Linked DNA regions of Homo sapiens: region 1 is linked to region 2. Evidence: fine-mapped expression QTL. A gene starts in region 2. The other region holds a variant in brackets. All regions are shown on one strand. Distances are from middle to middle. Region 1 holds the start of LOC101929444 (a long non-coding RNA gene). Region 2 holds the start of COL16A1 (collagen type XVI alpha 1 chain).

What was found.
Region 1: its variant is fine-mapped to the expression of COL16A1 in cerebellar hemisphere (GTEx, PIP above 0.99). The same link has a PIP of 0.9 or more in cerebellum.

The regions. Positions count from the first base shown.
Region 1 is chr1:31,669,054-31,677,435 of GRCh38, forward strand. COL16A1 (collagen type XVI alpha 1 chain) reads right to left here. Exons shown (of 71, transcript NM_001856.4): 43 at 6,205-6,258; 44 at 5,954-5,986; 45 at 3,671-3,787; 46 at 3,543-3,584; 47 at 3,363-3,449; 48 at 2,562-2,606; 49 at 1,549-1,593. It overlaps LOC101929444 (a long non-coding RNA gene), which reads left to right and starts at 751. Exons shown (of 2, transcript XR_001737631.2): 1 at 751-1,299; 2 at 1,779-2,014. The variant A/G (reference allele first, on the strand shown) is at 4,039.
Region 2 is chr1:31,699,208-31,707,429 of GRCh38, forward strand. COL16A1 (collagen type XVI alpha 1 chain) reads right to left here and starts at 4,810. Exons shown (of 71, transcript NM_001856.4): 1 at 4,630-4,810; 2 at 2,914-3,020; 3 at 834-908; 4 at 606-723. The coding sequence starts at 2,986. RefSeq lists enhancers at 1-662, 2,169-2,921 and a silencer at 6,231-6,280.

The DNA of each region.
Region 1 (8,382 bases), 30 kb before region 2:
ATGGGTGCCTCTCAGGAGGATACCCTTCAAGATAGATAACTATAGAGATATGCCCTCCAGCAGAGGTGACTCTGGGAGGGTATCTCTCAGGTGCCCGTCGCTGGTATGCCCTGCCATGGTAACTGACTGGCGTACACCTTTAGGAAGGTGATGGATCAGATGTGTGCTTATTCTGAGGGGCAACTGTCAGGAGAGGTACCCCAGATGGATGCTGCCACCAAAGTGTATCATATCATCAGATACCCAACACTTACCTGTCCAAGTCCCCCACCCCAAGCAAAAATCACTTTCTTGGAGGGAGGCAGGGGAGAGACACAGGAAGGCTGCCTCCAGAGCAGTCCCTGTCACTTTGTAGGGTGAGAGGGCATGTCACTTTCCACGAGAGCTACAGCCCCCACCCCTAATTCCTTACCCCAGCCTTTGCAGGTGCCATGCCATTAAGGGCACCTTTCCTGCCCCCTTCTCCCTCATCCCCTCAAGAGATGACGCCCAAACCTTTCCATGACATAAGACAGATGGCTAGACGGACAGATGGCCCCTTCACCCAAGCAAGCAGAAACAGACAAGGCCCGGCCACAGATGAGGACGTGGGGACAGATGGAACTGTGACGAGGAGGGGCCCTGCTCCCTGAGCCTCCATCACCAGGCCTGGGAGGAGAGGAGCCAGGCCCCAGGAACACAAAACCTGACAAACAGGAGGTTAGTTTCCGTGACCCAGGAGGGAGCAACAATGAGGCTGGGGGTGATGTAAACACACCTGTGACGATGACGAAGGCAGAGCAATTAACGACACCTGGCAGAAGGAGCCGGCCAAGGTGCCGGGCACAGAGGGGCAGGGCCGCACGACACCCAGAAACCCAACTGGCTGATATCACATGCCCCGCCTTGGAGCAGACTGGGACTGGAGCCAAGGAAGAGGAAGCGAAGAGGAGGCAGCTGAGAGTTTCCTCTAGGACGACGGAAAAGGCGCAGGAAGGGCTGCCTTTAAATCCCTGGGTGCCTCTGGACAGCCCTGCCAAGCAGCAGGGCAGCAAACCTGTGCCAGCCTGCAATGTGAAGCCCTAAAGCTTTGGCATCTCTGCTGGGCTCTGAGCCAGGTGCCTGGCAGGGCCCCAAGAACTACTTTCAGCAAATCTTCAGGCAACGCCGAAGGTGGTGAGAAGCAGGAGGCAGAGCGAGAAGGCAGGAATGGAGGGGCCCCCTAGAGGCACCAGCTTAAGAGGAAGGTTCACGAGCTCAGGAGGACTTGGGGGAGTGCTGCAAGATGGTGCGAGAAATGGAGAAGGAAGACAGAACGGGGTAAGAGAGAGAAGAGGAGAGAAAGAACGCAGGAGAGGAGGGAGAGGAGAAAACGGAAAGGAGTCAGAGACTGGGAGGATGTCCAAGCTGCCGGGACCTCAGAGAACCCGTGTCGTTAGCTACCGTGCCTGAAGGGGGACAACAAACACGGAGGACGGAGGTGAAGGCACGACAGGAGGGAGACAAGCAAAAGCCACAGAGACCTGGCTGACGGGGGGGAGGGGAGGTCGAGCAGCGCTAGGTTCTTACAGGCAATCCGGGGGAGCCAACAGCACCAGGAAAACCTGGGGGGCCCTGGTGGGAGAAACAGGCAGGTCACATCTCACAGGCACAGTAACCCTGGGACAGCCTGGAGGGCACAGTCTGGGGCTTGGGGGTCATGGGGAGAGGAGGTCATGGGAGTATTTTCAAGGCAGCTGGAAAAGAGACTCCTTGAAAGTCTTGGCTCAAAAGACAACTGTTCCTCCCCTTGGCTCCAGGAAGAATGGCTCCTCCGTTGACGGAGATGCGGAATGGCTCCAGAGTCAGAGGGCTTCCTGAGTCTTCCGGAGTCTAACTGAAGATCCGGTTGCAGCAGAAGCCCATTTCTTTCAGCCTTGCCCACCATGCCTGCCACCCGACCTCCACCTGTCCCCCGAGTGGGGGGCTCCCTGGCTCTAAGACAGCTCCCACCAGCCATTTTCTTCTCCAGAGAAAGCATTTTCAGTTCTTTCAATCTTTCCTAGTCACTTCTATTTTCCTGCCATGTCAACATCACAGAGGACTCCAGAGTAGATACCCTGGTCTGGTTTTTGTAGATTTACCCTAGAGATGGCCCTACAGAGCAATGGAGGACAGCTCCATCTTAGCCCCGAGCCCTTGTGGGGACTGGAGTCACAGGGGCATGGAGAGGTCTGGCCAGCATGCCGCATGCTTCCCTGGTTGGGAGGCTGTGAGCCTGAAGCCTAGGCCCCCTGCCGAGGGCGGCCTGGGGCCACTGTGGAAAGCGCAGCAGAGGGTGGGGACAGGGAAGCAAAGAGGTGCCTCTGAGGACCTCCCCTAAGCAGGACCGCAGGCAGTAGGCAGAGCAGGGCGGTTCCAGGGCATCCGGTGGTGGGAGAGCACAGTCCCTGCAGATGCTCTGCGGAGGGATGGGGAGGGCAGTGGAAGTTCCCTCCTCCTGCCTTGCCCAGCCTTTTGGGGACAAGGCCGCGGGATGGTGTCTGAGTGTAATGACCCCTTTGAGAGCTTCTCAAGCAGACCAGGGCACCACTGATACTTACGATAGGGCCTGGAGGACCCGGGGAGCCCCTCATGCCAGGCGGACCCTGCAAAGGAAGCCAAGGGAAATGGATGAAGAGGCCCAGGCCCCATAGAGCCCCTGGGATTCCAGCAGCCTTCCTCCCAGCTTGCCAGGGCCAAGGTCAACAGAGGGTGGCTGCTGTCCAAGCAGGACCACTTAGCTGATGTTCGAACAATCTTTCATTTGGCCCATTCGGTCATCCTACAAACATTTAACAAGCAACTATTACGTACCAGGCATTAGTCCAGGGGCTAGGATCACAGCATAAACAAAATAAATAAAAACCCCTGCCTCAAAGCAGTTACATTCTAGGGGAGAGACGGACACTAACAAATAGAACAGGAGCTGGCACATAGTTGGTGTTGAGCTGACACCTGTAGAATGTTCCTGAATGAAGTAAATAGGCAGGATGTTGGATGGTGATGAGTATGATGCAGGCCAAGGGGACTGGAGGCTCTGGGGTTGGTGTGGAGTTCAATTTTAAAGAGGGTGGTCAGGGGAGGTCTCTCTGAGAAGGAGACATTTGAGCCGAGCTGAAGGAGTGCAGGAATAAGCCCTGGAGAAGAGCGTTGCAGGCAGAGGATGCAGCTGGGCACTGGGGAGAAAGAGTGTGTCCTACGCTGGGTCCTGTGTATCCCAGAGAAGCCACGTGCCAGGAGAGCAGATGAGCCCAGAGTGGTAAAGGGCATCAGTCAGGTGAGGCCTCGGAGGCCCCCAAGAGGTCTCAAAGGCAGACAGGGCCCCAGCTCCCTTGAGGATGAATCCCCATCCCTGGTCTTACCTCTTCTCCTCTCTGGCCTGGCAATCCCGGAGGACCAGGTAGGCCTGGGCTCCCAACACAGCCAGGATCTCCCTCACTGTTGTCACCCTGGAGAAGGATGGAGACGGTGATAGTGAGCAGTCAGGGCCTGTCCCTGTGGGGCATGGGGCATGATCGGGGGAGATAAGGCGAGGCACTCACCCGGGCCTCCTCGGCTCTTGGGCGCTCCAGTGACAAAAAGCACTGCAAGGGACAATGAGAGGCACATTGTCTGATGAGGCAGCCAGGGAACCCTCCTGCATAGGGCAGCCCCAAGCCCAGTCCCTTACCTGGGCGCAGTTGTCGAGGCCTGGCACACCAGGGATGCCCTGGTCTCCCTTCTCTCCCTTCTCCACGAGGTACCCTGGGTGGGCCCTCTGCCCCTGGACACAGTCCCCGCAGATACTCTGATCAGGGAGTGGGGAGAGGAGTGGGGCCTGGGTTAGAGATGGGCAGGATGGGCCAACTGGGGAGCCCCAGTGAGAACCCAGAGCCAGGGCTCCCTGCCCTGCCGTCTTCCCTCCTCCCACACTCCCTCCCTCCCCAGCCGCATCCCTGCGGCAGCTTTGCTCCATCCTCGGGGGACCCACTCCCAACAATTGGCTTTGAGTTTCCTCCAGGAAGAAGCTCTGGTACAGCTAAGCCAAAGCCACTTTCC[A/G]GACAGGCATGTGGGTGGAGGCGAGGGGCCCGCAGAGGGACCATCTGTCCCGGCTGTTCCTGCAACCTGCACCCACTGCGAGGACAAGCCACGAGGAGTGAGGCTGGAAAGGCTGGCTCCGAACGCCAGCTTCTCTGCCCAAGGGAGCAAAGGAACAGCTGCGGGAGGAGCCAGGCCCTTCCCAGGAGCCCCTGGGACAGATCTCAGATTGCTCACAGGCTCCTGGCTCGGATCGCGCCACCAGAATTGTCTTCCCCACAGGAAGGGCTTTAACCTTCTTTGGGTCACAGACCCCTCTGAGAGTTTGATGGAAGCTATGGGTCCTTTTCTCAGAAAAATCAAACCCACTAGTGAAAACCAGCCTGCAATTTCTGAGGACTCAGGAGCCCGGAGCCTGTTTGTGGCCAGTGTCGTGTCCACAGATGCCCAGGCAGGAGCCCCTGCTCACTTTCACTGCTCACCACCAAGCCCAGTAATAACGACTGGCATTTACTCAGCACCCATGACGCTGGGCATTGTACATAATAAGCCCTGCACATTATCACATGCCATCTTGACGGCGCAGTGAGACAGGGAATCTTATAAGCATTGTGGAGATGGGAAAGCCCACTCAAGAGAGGCGGCGTGACTTGTCTAAGGAAAGTGGGAGCCTGGATTGGCGTGGGCCTGTCCTAGGCCACAGCCAGTGCTCTCTCCCCAGGCTTCCTGGACTATGGGTGCAGGTGGTGGCTGGGGCTCTGGGTCAGCATGCCCCGGGGTGCCATCTGACCCCTTCTCCACACTATGCGCACTTTCTATTTGGAATCCTCTGAAGAGCACTTGATGAAGAAGCCAACAGATGAAATGTTACAGGAGAAATGTCAAATCCTGGATTTGGAGTCACACGATCACTGCCCAGTCATTGACAGAAGCAGAGGGGAGAAGAGCTGGGGGTTTCGTTGCCACAACCTCACTGTGATCCAACATGTAACTGATGCCAAGAGGTTACCCCGACCTCCTCTGGCTGCTTCTGGAGAAATCTGCCGTTCAGAGCAGGGAAGGGGTAGACAGCCCCCATGCTCTGCCCTGACCAAGGCCCATCGGGGTCATGGGATGTCCAGGGCACTAATTAGCCAGTGTCAGAAGAGGGTGGCCAGGATGAGGGGGGGCTCTGGAGGCCAACACATGGGAAAGACCCCTGAGGATGCTGGGCTAGAGGAGAGAAAGTCCAGGAACATAAGGGCCTCCTTCAAAAACCTGAAGGCAACCTGGGGAATTACTGTGCTCTCGTTTCTAGAGGTGACTAAGCAAAGATGGGCTATGTGACTCTTGATTCCAATAGGAACTTCTGCTCAGTTTGGGAAGCCGGCCCAGGCCACAGCCCTCTGGTAGAGCATTAAGGCTGTGTACAGGCCCTGGCACAGGCCGACCCTCTGACCAGGTCCGAAGTCCCCTTTCTTAGACTACCAGAAGTGCTTCTCAAATCCATCTCCTCCCTGGATTCTTTCTGGATTGACTAGAGAACAGCTGAAGCTTTCTTCCAGGCCACACCCAATCTCACAGCCCCCCACCACTGCACTTTCACCCCCTCTGCTTTGCTTTGGAAGCTGCTGGGCTCTGCCGCAGGGTGACCCGGGTGCTACGGGGTCTCATTGCCAGCTGCTGCGGGCAGGCTTCAGGGCTGGGTTCTGCCGACAGCATCTGCCATGTGGGCACCTTCACAGGATTCCTTTAAGCACTCATTCAGCAAATGTTGCCTGGGGGCCTGTTACAAGCCAGGCATCAGCTAGGCCCTCTTAGACAGATGCTTGGAATGCGTATTCCCTGCAAACTGCTGCTCTCTCTGCGAGGTGCCACACAGCTGAGCACTTACTAAGAGAATCCCCTTAGGAGACACCCCCGCCAGCTCACACTTCCCTCCTGGGTACCCTCTTACCTTAAGGAGGTGCTGTTCAATTGGTAAGGATCCCTGCAAGAGACAGATGTGTGGGCTCAAGCAGGTGAGGGGAAGGAACATGGAGACTTATGGGATCAGGGAGAGCCTTGGGACACGTCATGCACCTTCCAGCCTCAGAAGTGGGAGAGAAGAGGGACCCCCACTGCAGCTACCGGGCCAGCTTCATAGCCTGAGCAGCCCTGGGAAGGGCAGGGAAGGGGCATGCACAGGGAGTCCTGGCCAGTACCCACCAGTTCTGCAGTGAGCCCAGGCTGTCCTGGCAAACCGTTGTTTCCAGGCACTCCCTGTAGCCAAGAAGAGACACGAGTGAGTGGGCTCCATCTCTCTAGCCTGCTGGTCAGCCTGTTTCCTTCTCATCATCCCCGCCTCCTCTTCCCCTTGTCCTGCAGAGCTGAGAGCCCTGGCTGGCACAAGGCTGACATCTATTCTTAGCTCAAAAGCCTCTCGACCCTTATAGGGAAAGCCAGGGAGGCCCAGAAGAGCGACCCCCCAAACCGTCCAACAGCAAGTGTTTTCCCCCCACATCAGAGGGAAGGTCAGAAATTGAGCAGAGGGTCTTCCATGGAACTACTGTTTATTTCTGTGCTAAGTCGTTTTTCTATATTTTCTCTCTTTCTTTTTCCTTTCCTTTTCTTTTTTCTTTTTTTCTTTGTAGAGACGGGGTCTCACTCTGTCACCCAGGCTGGAGTGCAATGGCATAATTATAGCTCACTGTAGCCTCAAACTCAGCTCAAGCGATTCTCCCACCTCAGCCTCCTGAGTAGCTGGGACTAGAGGCGCTCACCACCATGCCTGGCTAATTCTTTTGTGTTTATTATAGAGACCAGGTCTCGCTGGTAGGCTGGTCTCAAACTTCTGGGCTTAAGTGATCCTCCCCGCTCAGCCTCTCAAAATGTTGAAATTATAGGCGTGAACCACCACACCCAGCCTATTTTCTCGTTTAATCATCACAGCTATCTTGTTGAACTAGGTGCTGTTATCTCCATCTTAAAAATAGCACAAAGAACCCAGAGGAGGCTGGGCACGGTCACTCACACCTGCAATCGTAGCACTTTGGGAGGCCGAGGTGGGCGGATCACCTGAGGCCGGGAATTCGAGACCAGCCTGGCCAACATGGCGAAACCCCGTCTCTTCTAAAAATATAAAAGTTAGCAGGGCATGGTGGTGTGTGCCTGTGGTCCCAGATACACGGGAGGCTGAGACAGGAGAATCACTTGAACCTGGGAGATGGAGGTTGCAGTGAGCCAAGATTACGCCACTACACTTTAGTCTAGGCAACAGAGGGAGACTCCGTCTCAAAAAAAAAAAAAAAAAAGAACCCAGAGGAGTAAGTAACTTGCCAAAGGTCACAAGTTGAGCAAGGCACAGAGCTGAGGTCCAGAGCAAGGATCACTGGCTTCTAACCCCTCTCTTAACCACAATTCTAGCATCATTCCTCAACAGACATCCCCAGAACATTCATGTACACAGCAAGGGTGGGTACTTGCCAGTCAGATTCATCTAGATACAAAATTCTGACTACCTGTATAACTTTTGGCAATTTATTTGGGGGAAAAAAATTCTATGCCTCAGTTGCCTTATCTATAAAACAGGGATAGTTTATGGTGAGGCTTCAAGGAGACAATGGCTGCAACGATGTTTACATTAAATCCATGCCACCCGGACAATGTTCCCCTTGCAGATTCGTGAGGCACATTTGCATATTAAATACTCCATGGAGGCAGGGAGTATGTTCCATTTTGAATCCCCAGCACCCAACATGGAGGAGATGTGCAGTAAGTACGTGTTGAGTGAATGCACCGCTGCTCAGCCTGCTCCTCCCTGCACAGGATTTCCTTGGCGCACTCTGAGATCTGGCCTTCCTTCAAGTCCCAGCTCCCAGCAATGGAACATATCACCAGCCCCCGAGCAATTTCCAGGCAGGCTCTACCAGGCCTGGGTCAGACCCGGAGCCAGCCACCATCCAGGCCCCCTGGCACCTCTGTGCACCATCAGGGCTTAGAGCAGTGCCTGGCACAGGGAAAATGCCTTGAACATGTCAATTATTATTTTTTATTTATTATTATTATTATTATTTTTGAGATGTATCACTCTGTCGCCCAGGCTGGAGTGCAGTGGTGCAATCTCAGCTCATCGAAACCTCCGCTTCCTGGGTTCAAGCGATTCTCCTGCCTCAGCCTCCTGAGTAGCTGGGATTACAGGCATGCACCACAAAACCCGGTTAATTCTTTTTGTATTTTTAGTAGAGACGGGGTTTCGCCATGCTGGCCAGGCTGGTCTCGAACTCCTGACCTCAAGTGATCTGCCGACCTTGGCCTCCCAAAGTGCTGGGATTACAGGCGTGAGCCACCACGCCTGGCCCGAACATGTTAATTATTATGCCTTAAATCATTATTCATCCCTTGCTC
Region 2 (8,222 bases):
GGCAGGGAGGCCATGAGCAAAGAATCCCCAGAATGACTATTTCGCTATCGCATTGCAATTTGAATAAGTGCTTCCAATGAACCCAGAATACCCTAGGTGAATAACTGGAGCAAGGGTGGAAGGAGAGATACTGAAAAAAAGATGGAAAGGGTTCAGCATGACCAGAGCAGCAAGAGATAAAAAAGAGCATTTTGAGAGCTGAGGTTGAAGAGGCAAGCAGGGGCCAGGCCAGGGCTTGTGGGAATTTGGACTTCACACACATGGGTGCACACACACGCATGTGCGCACACACACACATGCACACACGCACATGACTCTTGCCAGGTTCCCGCCCACATCCTGTGTTCTCACAGTGCCCACAGGATGCAGACCTGTTCCCACCCACTGCTGGCCAGAGACAGGGGAAAGACAGAAGGTAGGTCTGCCAGGTACCACCTCTCAGCCCACCCTGCAAGCCCAGGGGTGGAGACCAGGTTGACTCCTGGCAGGGGCTGGGATGCAATGACCCACAGACAGGCCCCTGGGCTTAAGCCCCACATCTGGAGTTGCTGAGGAGTGTGGCTGAGGTCAGTGTTGATTCTCAGTGGTCACATGGATGCATTTACCGCGTGGGCTGGGTCACGGGGGCCGCCCCCAGGCGCAGGATGAGAGGCCCCTTGGGGTTGCGGATCTTCTTGATGGCAGACGTCTTCATGAGGCTGAGTCGGTGGATGAGGTTGAAGCCTTTGGGGGAGACATCAGGTGAAGAGCTCAGCTGAGCAGGTGGAGAGGGGTACAGATCACTCCCAGAGGAAGGTTGCAGGGACGGCGCGATGAGATGGTTGGGTGCTCACCAGTCACGTTGGCTGGCAGGCTACTACTGTGTTCCAATTTGAGTCCTTCCTGCTGTGAAGGTGGGCATTGTGCACCTAGAAGAGAAGGGGCAGGGGGGCATTAGGTGCGCTCAGGCCAAGGTTGCTGCACGGCTGGACGCCTGGGGAACCTGGGAGGGAGCAAGTTTATAGTCCTCACTCTGGACCATCAGCTAGATCCTGCCTTCACCACCTGCCTTCTGACCCTGGCTCCCCAGGAAGCCTGGAGGCCCCCAACCCAGCATACAGTTTGGAAGACTGAGGTCCAGAGACTGAGGCCCAGGCCAAGGTCACTAAGTGAGCCAACAGCAGAGCAGGCCCAGAACTCCAGGAACCCAAATCTCCCAGCACTCCAAGTCAGGAGCTAGGCCAGCAAGGGAGAGAATACACGAAGCTCTAGGTGGCTCTCGAGCACAGATGGAGTGGGGAGCTGTGTATTTACACATGTGCCCCCTCCATGACATACACCCAGGTGGGGGGCAGAGGAGCTCTTCAGGGGTAAGGAAATGTCAGAATCATGCACATTGTGTGTTATGTACAATTATATGTACGTGTCTGTACATGTGGGAGTTGTAGGTGCCCATGCCACGAGGGATGACATGTGCAGCTGGCACACGTGTTCTCAGCAATAGGAACGTCCTACATCCAAATCAGACAAGCAGGCCAGACACAAGTAGGAGCCAACAGAATGAATATTTACCTGAATAACCACCTTGTGAAACAGCGAGAAGAGACTGAGGGTCTGAGGGGACCACAAGCTCAAGGGTACCACCAGGGCCTTGGAGCTCCAGGAAGGGCATATTAATGGGTTAGGGCTCCCAGAGAAGGAGATAGCTTAACTCAGGTTTCCAAAGCCCTGAAAGAACAGGTGGGCAGCCATGGGCCTCCCTCGCCCTGGGGCTGACTGAGCAGAAGTGTTGGGGGAGGTGCTACAACAGGAAAGACAGAGGCCAGAATCAAAAAGGCCTTCTCATCAATGCAGAGGGATAGGTGGGAGAAGACGGTGAAGACAGCTCCTAGAAGCTGGCCTTGCACTCTCTGGCTAGACTGGCTGGAAGAAGGAATCCTGGGGCCCTGGGGCCCGGTGCCAATGACCCCACTGCACTCTCCCTCCCCCAGGTCTGGTCAGAAAGACCATCACTGTCTTCAGCATCACAGCAGCAATGGGTGACTCACCCCTTGGCAATGGGCCCAGATTCCTTACAGATGTTGAAATTATCTGCCCCATCCCCCCCAGGGGACCCAGTGAGGGAGAGGAGAGCAAAGCTCACGCACACACAAGCAGAAACACATATGTGCACATACAAGGGGCAGGCGGCCACACTCACCCTGGGTCCACAATCCCTTTCACCTCAGCTTCTTGGTTTTTCTGCTTTTCCTAGCTGGGTTTGGGTCCTAGGAGTTCTGTTCCTGCTTGGCGAAGCAGCTGAGCTACTGAGCCCAGAGGGCACCCAGCAAGGCCAGGCAAGTTGCCCGGTCAACTTCCCCTGGCTTTGGGCCCTGGAAAGCTGCACCCTCTGTCTCATCCAGAGTCTGGGCCTCGGGGTGGGCCTTTTATTAGAGATTCAGGGCCAGCCGTGGAGGAGGAGAAGCACGTGAGCTAGAGGGATGGAGTCTCCACCATGAAAAGGATCAGCAGGACTTGGGGTTCTCTGGGGAGGCGGCGTCCTTCTGCAGGGAGAGCTCACTGCCTGTTCCTCCCCACCCCACTGGTCCTACCAGCAATGTGTCCACAGGATTGGCTTACGTATTGGGGTGGGAGGTTGTTCTCTTACACACAGAGACACAGGAATACATACGAATGCACAAAGCCAGTCTGAGAGACAAACACAGAGATGCTCAGAGACATAAACGTACGAAGACACAGGCACACACACTCTCCAGCTCACTGCACACAGGCTCAAGGGTGCCAACACCTCAGATCACCCTGAGCCCAGCCCCTAGACTCTGCTATAACTGCCCACACGACCACACATACATGGTCACATATGTGCAAGGACCCCAGCACCCCAGGATACCAGTTGCAGGCCTGTGATACTGTGACTCTCCTGTGTCATCTCACCTGTATTTGCCCCATGGCCGAAGGTAGCCCAAAGACCGAGCAGCCACAGGCCAGGAGCCCAGGATACCCACATCCCGGTCCAAAGAGGTCAGCTACAGCCACAGCACCTGAAAACCACAGAGACCGGGAAGGCGGATTTCTGAGTTCACACAGCACAACTCCACACGTGGGCAAGTCGTGGACAGCCTGTGGGGCCCAGGCACTGGTATTGGGGTGGCAGGAGGTCTGGCCAGGCATCAGTCTCTCTCAGAGGCCCAACCACAGCCCTTGGGCTAGGATTTGAGCAGAGGCGATATTCAAAATATTTAACCACCGGTATGGCACGGATACCAGCTTTCAGGCAAAGCAGAAAGCTGCCTACTGCACTGAAATAGTGTCCAGGCAGCATCTGGCTGTGCCAGTGGATACTTGCTGGATTGGGAGAGGTCTAGAAGGTCTTAGAAGGCCAGAGAAGTTGGAATAGTGATGAGGGCTTAAAGAAGAGGCTATTCTTCAAGACACGTGGAAGTATTTCAAGTCTAGCATCTTGTGCACTGTCCTGGTATATATACCAGCCTGATACCTTACTAGCGCACCCAGCTCAGCCCAGGAAGCCCTCCCAGGCACCCACAGGGTCAGGGGCTGGTGACTGGGCTGAGATTGTGGGCCACAGCCTTCCATAGGGCTGTGTGGGGGCCAAGGAAGCTTTCCCCATAGGTATAGTGGGCAGGAGAGCAGGTCTCTAGGGCTCAGGACCTCATTGCCAGCCACCCCCGCCCCCAGCTGATGGATGCTTGTCTTTTAGTTTTATTAAACCCTGATGGATGGGCCCAGATAAATCGATGCAGGCTCAGCAAGTGGCCAGCAGAGCCATACATCGTCTGGCCTCCCCCAGGACAGGCAGCTCACGTGCACAAACACAGAGCCATGCATGTGTCAGCACAGCACATGCAGATGCGCAGGTACATGTACATAAGGACACATATGTGGTACCAGTGTGCATACAAAGCTATCTGCACACAGGCATGCTCACGGAAACATATGCTCGCTGATATACCCAGACACACCAGCTTGCATATACCCACATGCGCACAGCCAGCCTATGACCACTCCTCCTGTAGGTCTTCCTGTTGGGAAGTTCTAATGCAAGTCTGACTGCATTCCTTCCAACTCTAATGAAATCCAATTTTCCTTCCCTCAATCATGGATAGGAAATGAAAACAGAAAGGACCCCTTACCCCAATATATTTGGAGATAGGACTCCAGCCCCCTTCTCCCTGGGACAGAACTGTGCCCCCAGCCTGCCTATTCATCCCCCATCCTAGTGATATACACATCCCAGCTCTCAAACCCTATCCTGGTCTTCCTCCTGCCAGCCAATAGAAGGGCTGCCAGCTGTGGCGCCATGTGGGTGCATGTGGAGGCGTGAGGATGGATGTGATCCTGTCCCCTTCCGGCTCCTAGTCTCTGGTCGCCACTCCTCAGGCTCCAGCCAGAGTGCAGGGCTGCAAGGACAGAGCCAGAGAAGCTTCCAAGGAGACGGCTCACCCCAACACAGAGGCATAGATTTGGGCGCAGGGAGTCAGAACCAGGATGGAGTTTAGAGCTCATCTCGCTCTAGAGAAGACGACCAAGGCCCAGAGAGGGAATGCCACTTTCCTCAGGTCACACAGCAAGTCTGGCAGAAAGGGCCTCTCAGCCCAGAGCCCTGAGGCCGCCCACTGTATCCCTACTTACCGGTGGCCGGGGATCCCCCCACCTCACTGAGCAGTCCAGGCAGCAGGCGGAGGAAGCAGAGCCCAGGTTCCTCAGGTCCGCTAGGGGTTCTCTATCTCTCCGTGACGGTCACGGGTCCCCAGCTTCCTGGCGCTCGAGCTCTCCCGGCTGTCTGCTGCCCGGCGCACGCCTGCCGGGGACTGCCGGCCACTCCGGGTGGGGGAAGAGAGGCGGTTCCAGGGGGCTGGGGGCCTGCCAGGGACACTAATGGAACACAGCTGGACCGGCCCGCCAGGGAGGAGGAGGAGGAGGGCCTAGAGGGGGCTCCAGCGGCACCAGAGGCGGCTAGACTGCGGGGTGCACAGCCCCGCCCCGGGTCTGGCCGAGCTCCCAGGCCCGCCCCTCCTGCCTCACCGCCAGGTGAGCGATCCTCGAGCTAGGCGGGACCCTACGTGCCCAGAGCTGCCCTGGAAGGGGGCTCCTGCGGGCCCTTTAAGAGTCAGGCCTGGAGTTTGAAGAGCTCCCCCTTTCCATGTCCCTGGCTGGGCCCCCAGAAGGCTGCGGGGTGGGGGGGCGGGGAGGGGACAGGGGTGGAGGGAGCAGGGTAGAGACCCTCCTCCCAAGTGCGTGGCACCCATGATGTGGCTGCCGCCCAAGCCTCGGTGGTCAGCTTTTTCCAATTCCTCTGCCTAACATTCCCAGTCAGTCTGTCCCTAGGTCTGTCTGTACTGGGAGGAGGAGGGTGGGAACCCCCTCCCTCCTCCGTGCTAAATTAACCCCCTCTGCTCTGGCCTGACTCCCAGAGAAGTGAGACTGAGGGAGTCCCCTTATTCCTCCTTACTCCATGAGGTTGGAAGGGCTCAAATCCCTGGCCCCTGCTCTGGCTTTGCGGTTCCAAATGTGCTGTGTAACCATACTCCGTTTTCTCATCTGGAAGATGGGATCGTGAGAGTATATGCCTCATAGACCTTTGCTGTAAGCAGGAAATGGGCCAAAGGCTGTAAGCGCTTAGCACACGGTCTGGCACATGAGAGGAGCTCAGTAAATATTTGCTGCTATTATCGTTATTACTGTGATCCCTGGCAGGGGACGGGACTGGATTTCAAGCCTTTACACCAGCACTGGGGAGGGACCTGCTTTATATTCACGGTCCAAGGACGCAAGAGGAATTGAGCTGGGCTGAAAGATTGGAGCTCTGAGGAGGAAGGAGCCGGTAATGTTCCGAGTTCTGCCCAGAGGCAGGGCCGTTGACCAAGGTGGAATCCCCACCAAGGGTCTCCTCCCGCTGTAGACCGAAAGCAAATTTATTGGCACCAAGGCTGAGGATCCACAAAGTAGGTTCAAGAGGCCATGAGATGCTGGGCTGAAGAGGGAGAAACTGAGCGTCCCCAGTTGAGGGGGGCTCTGGGGGCTCTGTGGAAGCAACGCGCCTAGCCCTGTGGCCTCGGCTAACCCGGGGTAGGGGGAGGTTGTAGGGGCAGGCCTGGGATTTCCCGCCTCCAGACCCAGAGGCGCTGAGTCAGCGGAAACCCCAACCACGCCACAGAGGCGCCCCACTGTGGTCCCAGTGAGGAGCTGGCCCCAGATGTGGCTGTGGCAGTGGTGGGGCCTGGGAAGTGCTGAGCTCAGCAGGCGGGAAGCGGAGGGGGTGGGGCCTTCTGAGCACTCTGGCCTGCGGGGTGGGTGGGCACAGGCCCCGCCTGCCCTACCAGAGGGTGCTGCCCCAGCAGTGGGCACTCGGGAGAGGTGGGAAGCGCATATAGGTCAGGCTCTGTGCTGAGAACTTCACATATGCTAACTCCTTCGATCTTTACAACAACGCCTTAAGGCAGAATTCCATTTTTATTCCCAAACCTGCAGCACAGGAAAAACACAACTTGCCCGGGATCCCACAGCTAGTCAGTGGTGGAGCAGAACTCATGTCCAGCCAGCCTAGACTCAGCACGTGCTCTTAACCACCATGCCATCCTGACAGCTCCCACCCGTGCCCCAGACAGGGCAGGTGGCTGGGCCAGGGATGGAGGAACCTGAGAAGGGAGAGCCAGATGCCTTCCCACAGCACCCCAAGGGTGCTCACAGGAACAGCCAAGCCTGGGACACACCTTACGCCTAGAAACACTATCATAGACAGTCTAGGAATGTGCCCATGCCCCTTCCTCCCTTCCACACATACGTGCACACATCCAGAAACACGCAGTCAGGTAAAGTTCTAGCACAGCACTTGAGTACGCAGACTCCATATGCATGTATAGGCACTCATGTTCACACAGACACACCCTGGCCCTAGAAACAGTTACACACAGATGTGTAGAGACTCAAGATACGCCTCCACATCAAAGATACACAGAAACACATGTAAGAGCCCAGATTACCCCACAGAAATATATCCCTGGACATATCCAAACACAGGTACATAATTCTCAGAATGCCTGCATACAGCACTGTATATACTCGAATGTGCACACACAGACACATGCCTGTACACATAGACATGTGTGCACATAAACATACATGTGACCACAGGCATAATTACTCAGATATGCAAGCAGAGAAGCCTGCAGACCTGCAGCACATACATGTGTGCACACAGACATAGATGGCCACACAGACTCGGCTCCCAGAGAAACAGCCACTGGGACATGCACACACTGACACATGTACACACATGCATACATGCAGCTGTGCTGACACTTTTACATGCAGTCAGTGCCAGAAAGCCCTGCACGCCAGCAACCCGGGTATCCCGTGAGGCTGGGCTCAGCGCCCTCACCCCAGATGGCATCACCACGAGGTAATCAATGCTGCTAATCACCACCAGCTGCCCTGGAGCCTGCATGCTGCTGCTGCATGGGGCTACCAAGGCCTTCTGGACCTGGGGTAGTATGCCCAGATGTTGGCAGTGCCCAAGGGCCCTCCGCCCCCCACTGGGGAATCCCTGTCTGGCAGGGGCAGCCCCTGGGGCTGGGGCAGGTTGAAGAGCCAACCCAGGGCCTGGTCCCAGGACAGGTCCGGGAGCCCCCACGCGTTCAAGCAGAGATGGTGTAAAGTTCTGAGGCTTGAACAGTGGACCAGAACCCCCACATGTACACGTGCACACCTGGGCCCTGGCATATGCGCATACGGGCTCACACGCAGACACATCACACATGATTGATTACTCTTCACAGATATGCCCTTCCTGACTTCCTCATCCCTTTAAATGCCACGATAATTCATTCTGATGCTCAGGTAAAAACCTGAAAACCTTGGCTCCTTTCTTTTCCCTACCACCCCCATCCAATCCTGTCAGTTCTACCCCCCAAATACAGCCCACGTCCATCCACTCCTCCCCACCTCCACAGCTGCAACCCTCACCCAGACCATGATCATCTTCTGCTGGGCTGTTGCAAGAGCCCCCAGCTGATCTGCCTGCTGCCTTGGGGCCCCACCACCCACTTACTTCCCACCTGGTGGCCAGTAAGACCTTTTCTTTTCTTTTCTTTTTTCTTTTCTTTCTTTCTTCCCACCTGGCAGCCAGTAATACCTTTTCTTTTCTTTTCTTTTCTTTTCTTTTCTTTTCTTTTCTTTTCTTTTCTTTCTTTCTTTCTTTCTCTCTTTTTCTTTCTTTCTTTTTT